Homo sapiens: one gene and its partner. The protein of the gene in region 2 purifies or fractionates together with the protein of the main gene of each other region. This does not show direct contact. Each region holds a gene or a part of one and is shown on either strand. Other genes may lie near its edges.

Region 1 (3,661 bases), on a different chromosome or scaffold from region 2:
ATTTATGTTCTAATATTTATATTCTCATCAACATAAACTGGAATATATGCTGATTAATGTATCAGTCTAAAGGGAAGATTTTTAGTAACATACTTAGTACTCTAACCTGTTTGACACTTTCATTAATGACTTGAATACCAGCTTTTTAGATATCCTAAGGTGGAAAGATCACTAAGGCATGTGACCAAATCAGGATTCCAAAGACGGAGTAGACCACATATACTCTAGACAAAAACCTAAAAAATGTTAAAATTAGAGTTATAGGTTAAAACCTGCCTTAGGTATTTTAAAAACTCAATCCCACGAGTACAACATAACATGGTGGGAAATCAGGTTTTTGATTGTTTCATATGGAGAAAAGTACCTGAACCATTATGAAACACAGCTCTTAAAAAAAAGGAAAGGAAAAAAGTGAATATAATACAGTTGCCTACATTAAAAGAAGTGAAGCCTTAGATTAAGGGAGTTATAGTTGTATTGTTCTTGACACTGATCTCTCCGTATCTATAGATGTATTGTTGAAGTAGGGTATATAACACCAGTTGGGGTATGGGAATAAAAGATTAGACTCTCTGTACATTTTTAAAAATTTATTTTGGGTGGATGTTTTATAATGAACATAACTTGTTAGTACAGTAACATGTTTATAATTTGAAAATAAGATCTATAGAAAATGCACAAAAATGGATTGTAATAAATGTGAGAATGATAATCTGGAATGCATGTAAGAAAAAACTAGCAGGTTAGTAATACAACTGAAAACCATGTTATCTACAAAAAATAGTTGAAGCGTTGTGATCTGGAGACAAGAAAACTTACAGGAGTTACTAGATATTTTAAGAGTGTATGTTGATTTAGTAGGAAGGAATAAATATTTGTTTATGATTCAGTATAGTAGCAATGAAGCATACTGTAATTCCTCCTAGTGATTGGAATTGTATTGTCAGAAAGATCACATATATTTTGCACCAAATGGGAGATTAAATTTTATTGCCTATTTTTTTTCAACTTTATTGTTCTGTTAATAGCGTGAGGATTTCAAAGACTGAGCTTAATAATTTGTATAAAACTAGATACTAGAATAATTCTGTCTCTGTGTCAGAGTGAAAATATAATGCGAGAAGAGAGAAGAGGGCTATCTTAGTAAATATTGAAAATATTGCTGAAGAGTTTCTTTTAATAAAACTGCAGGTGGGCCGGGCATGGTGGCTCATGCCTGTAATCCCAGCACTTTGGGAGGCCAAGATGGGCGGATCACCTGAGGTCAGGAGTTTGAGACCAGCCTGGCCAACATGGCAAAACACCGTCTCTACTAAAAATACAAAAATTAGCTGGGCGTGGTGGCGGGTGCCTGTAATCCCAGCTGCTGCGGAGGCTAAGGCATGAGAATCGCTTGAACCCAGGAAGTGGAGGTTGCAGTGAGCCGAGATTGCGCCATTGCACTCCAGTCTGGATGACAAGAGCAAAATTCCGTCTCAAAAAAAAAAAACTTGCAGGTGATATATATATATACACACACACATACACACATATATATGATATATAATGATACTGACCTTAATATATATAAATGTATCACCCACAGTTTAATTAAAAGAAACAAACCTGAACTAGTAAAACCATACCTGAGACATTGTGGCTTATATGGTTGGCAAATTAGCACCATTCTGCAAAAATGACTTGTTATCAAAATGAGCAATTAAAAACTAAACCACACATGGGGATATGTTGCCTCTAATTTTCTATTTTTGATTAATAATATTTTCAACTGGTTTTTGCTTCTTGTGTTAAAATATGAAAGATTAAAAAAAAATGTGAAGACATTTTAAGCTTTTTTTCCCCTCATGAAAAAGAATCCTAGAAAAAAAAAAAGCTAGTCTTAAACTGTTATCTCCCACTGTCTACAAATGACATTTTAATACTTTAATAGGGAGTGATTTACACTATGTGATAACTGCATGGATTAAAATGGGAGATAAAATCCCAAAGTACTTTTTTAATCTTTATATCCCTGTTACTATGTTGGTTTTTAGCCAAAGATTGAATGAAACTTCTCTAGCAAAATAGCAATTGAATTTCTTTAATCTTTTAAAATATGCCCCGAGCATTTACAATCTGTGTGAAAAATAATAGAGCTACAATTATTTTGTCATATTATTTGTTTATAACTTATATAGCCCCAAATCATCTTTTTGGCATTTCAATACATTTTCACATGTGAAATATCTGGTTATCTTTATTTTTTTATTTCATCTTTCCACTGAAATGGACACCGATGTTTGTTTAAGCTATGAGTCTGTTGAAACCCATCATCCTGACAGCATGTCTAAAGGTTCACTTATTTATTCAAAAAAAAGTTTTAAATGCCCACCACAAGACACACCAAGTGGTAAAGATACAACTTTGTTTTTTGCTACCAGCAGTAGAAAACATAGCCAGTGTCTCTGCCTCTGTATAGCTTACATTGTAGAAGAGAAGATAACAAATAATGACATAAGGGCAATAATATTAGCATGGGGTGAGTAAAGGGTGCTTGAGGAGTGGAGAACATCTTAATGAAGTCCCATTTATTATGATCTGAAGGAACTGCAGAATTTAGCCTGATTAAGTTATTATAGGTGGGGTAAGAGTGGTAAGTGGAGGGAGATGAAGAGCCTTCAAAAACCAGGCGATGAAAGAGAGCAAAGAGCATGAAAGTGGTCCAATGTAGTTGGAAGATTAAGGGGAAGAGTGTCTAGAAATGAGGCAGAAAGAGTAAGTAAAGGTTGAAGGCCTTTCAAGTTTGCCAAGGATATTTTATCTGATGGGCTTTGAATTAAACATATATATTTAATATGCATGTATAGTAAATATACATTTTATATTTTTATTTAAATAATAGGGGAATTGTAGGATCAGATTTCTCTTTTCAGAGAACTTCTGCATTCAAAATGGAGAAGGGATTTGAGGATGACCAGAGTGAAAACAGTCTGACAGACCAAAAAGGGTTATTGTAATTCTTCATCCCTTGATGTAAAGAAATAATGGTGGCTTAGACTATACTGATAGAAATTGAGATAGAGAAAAGAGGACATATTTGAAAGATAGTTCAGAGGTGTATGGTCAAAAACACTTTATGATAATTAGAAAGAACAGTTAGGTAGAGGCAAAGATGATTCTTCGGTTTCTGCCTTAAGCAACTGGATGGATAATGGTATGATTTCTGAATTAGGAAAACAACATGGTGAATGGGATAAAATTTTTGTTTGTTTTGTGATGGGGTTGTATTAATTTTCTATGTCCATGTAACAAATTGCCCCCAATTTAGCAGCTTAAAATAGCACCCATTTATTAGCTCACAGTTCAAAAGTCATGCAGGTTTTGCTAGGCTTTCTACTTAGGGTCCCACAAGGCCAGAATCAAGAGATTGGGCTAGGCTTTTGTCTGGAGGCACTGGGGAAGAAGCCACTTCCAGGGCCATTTAGGTTATTGATAGAATTCAGTTCCTTGTGGCTATAGGACTGTTTCTCATTTTTATTGGCTGTTGGCTACAAGTCACTGCCAGATCCTTCCCACATGTTCCCCCCCACCTTCAAACAAGCAATGGCACACTGCATTCACTTGGTTTTTTGAATTTCTGACAATCAGCTGGAGAAACCTCTCTGCTTTTGAAGGTTTGTTT
Region 2 (2,351 bases):
TGCAAAAATCTAGAGGGCGCCATTGGTATTGTGACATGGGTAGTACCTATTAGACACCTGCACAACCTGCCAACTGTATACAGATGCCCTGGTCATCTCATGGCCATGGCTACGAAAGTTGCCTTCCCTCCCCACTACCAGCCCTGCCCAACCTAGGCAAAGATTCCTGCCTCTGCTTGAGTGTTCTAATGTGGCCCAGAAGTGACTTACCATTGACCTTAATTGGGAAGTATCTCCCTGATGGGCCATCCCCTAGAGGCCTTTGGAATTCCATTTATAAAAGTGAAATGTGGCTGGGAACTTTTCAGTTACTCATCTTTGCAAAGTGAAAGCCTCTGTAAGGCAAACCAAAGCTGTGAAGACTGGGGTCACTGACTCCCACACTCCTGGCCTGTGGGTGAATATATGCCTTCATGGCCATCTGCCACGGAATTAGGGTAAAGGCCTCAAGGCTAGTCTTGTAGCTAACTGCCACCAAGAAGCCACCAAGAAAATCACTGAGGTCACCCTAGACTGGATGCCTGGGCCAGGGTCACAAACCCCAATGCCTACAGGGGCGAGGCAGGAAACATAAATGAGTGGAGAGGATTAAGCCAGTTCTTCACTGAGAATGGAGAACACTGTGGTCTGCCATGGTTGCTGCCACATGGGAATGTGGCCTGAGGTTGCCGGATAGTCCGCCCCATTTTTGAAGAGAAGCTGGGAATCTGGACTTTTAAATGTTGGCAACTATTTTGAATTTAGAAAACACCATCTGGGCCAAATAAAACATATTCTGTAGGCGAGATCCGGCCCTTGAATCTCCAGTTTGCATCCGCTGGCCCAGGCCCAGAGACTTGGGTTTTTAAGACCCAAGTCACTGAGAGTCTGAGGATATTACACTCAGATTCTCAGTGATGGATATTTAAGAGACCTCAGAGATGACCTAGCTCAGCCTTTGTGTGTTCAAAACTGCGTATGTACAAACTTCTTTTTTTTTTTTTTTTTTTTTTTTTTTTTTTTTTTTTGAGACGGAGTCTTGCTCTGTCACTCAGGCTGGAGTGCAGTGGCACAATCTTGGCTCACTGCAACCTCCGCCTCCTGGGGTCAAGCAATTCTCCTGCCTCAGCTTCCTGAGTAGCTGGGATTACAGGTGCCCGCCACCATGCCCAGCTAATTTTTTGTATTTTTAGTAGAGATGGGGTTTCACCATATTGGCCAGGCTGGTCTCGAACTCCTGACCTCAGGTGATCCACCAGCCTCTGCCTCCCAAAGTGCTGGGATTACAGGCGTGAGCCACCACACTCGGCCTACGAACTTCTTTATTAATGTAATAGCGCACATATACTTAACTTCTGGTTTCTACTTAAGAGCATCTCAATAACCTCCGATATAGAATACGATGAAAAATGAAACCTGTGTGCATAATGTGCTTGTATCTACCTGTCAGAAGCCCTTTGCTTTGATAGCATTTGCTGCCTCAGTCTTCCTCATCACCCAACCTCTCTGGGTTGCTTGTTATGATAAACCTAAGTGCCTCCGTAAATGGTTAGAGCATGTGTTTCTTCGTCTTTGTGACTTCCCTTGTCTGGGAATAAGACTGCTTGTACTTCTCCCAGCTTTGCCCTCTTTGGCCTACTAGTAGCACACCCCATCGATCCAGACCTGTCTGGCTCTTTGTAACATTTACCTGGTCACATGATAAAGGGTGCTGAGTGCTTGCCAGTGTGGGTCCCTGTCACTTCTCATGCATGTCCTATACCTTAATTTTACCACATGTGCTTCTGCTTCTTAAAAGCCATTCAAATAAATGGAGAGGGTTTTAATTAACTTACGTTGTCTTGTTTTTTCCCCACAATTGTATTCACAAACTGGCATATGGCCCCTCATGAAATGCTAATGGTGACGTAGGTAATGAAGAGGCCTGGGACCCGATTCATCCACTAGTGCTGGGATCTTTCTGTAGAATCTGTCCCAGCACATGAAGACCACCCTGAGGGGAGATTCCGCAATGGACAGCAGCCTGAGAGCATCAGAAGGCAAGCTTCCCCCAACAGGGCTCCTCACATGGACTCGGTGTTCCCATCTGGAACTACCAAGGGTGGGGATGGAGAGGGAGGAAGAGAAGATGAGAAAGGATGTGAGATGAAGGAAGAAGGGGATAACTCAGACTCCAGCCCTCACATCATTCTTCTTCCTGCACCCCAGGGTCTTCCTACACCCCAGGGTCTTCCTGCACCTCAAAGTGTCTGCAGAGCAGGAATCCAAGAGTGGCTTTTCTGGGTGGTTCTTACTCAGAGCCTCTCATGAGGTTGTAGTCAAGCTGCCAGGTGGAGCTGCAGTCAATGGAAGGCTTGCCTAGGGCTGGAGGA

Evidence for each region. The genes of interacting proteins can lie anywhere in the genome.
Region 1: the proteins of NT5C1A (region 2) and KLHL8 purify together in Homo sapiens (affinity purification with mass spectrometry; one large-scale study listed by BioGRID and IntAct). This does not show direct contact.

What each region holds. Positions count from the first base shown.
Region 1 is NC_000004.12:87,172,112-87,175,772, reverse strand, and holds part of KLHL8 (kelch-like protein 8), read left to right. Parts: intron 1-3,661. UniProt on the Homo sapiens protein: Substrate-specific adapter of a BCR (BTB-CUL3-RBX1) E3 ubiquitin ligase complex required for The BCR(KLHL8) ubiquitin ligase complex mediates ubiquitination and degradation of RAPSN.
Region 2 is NC_000001.11:39,650,687-39,653,037, reverse strand, and holds the end of NT5C1A (cytosolic 5'-nucleotidase 1A), read left to right. Parts: 3' UTR 1-1,809; downstream 1,810-2,351.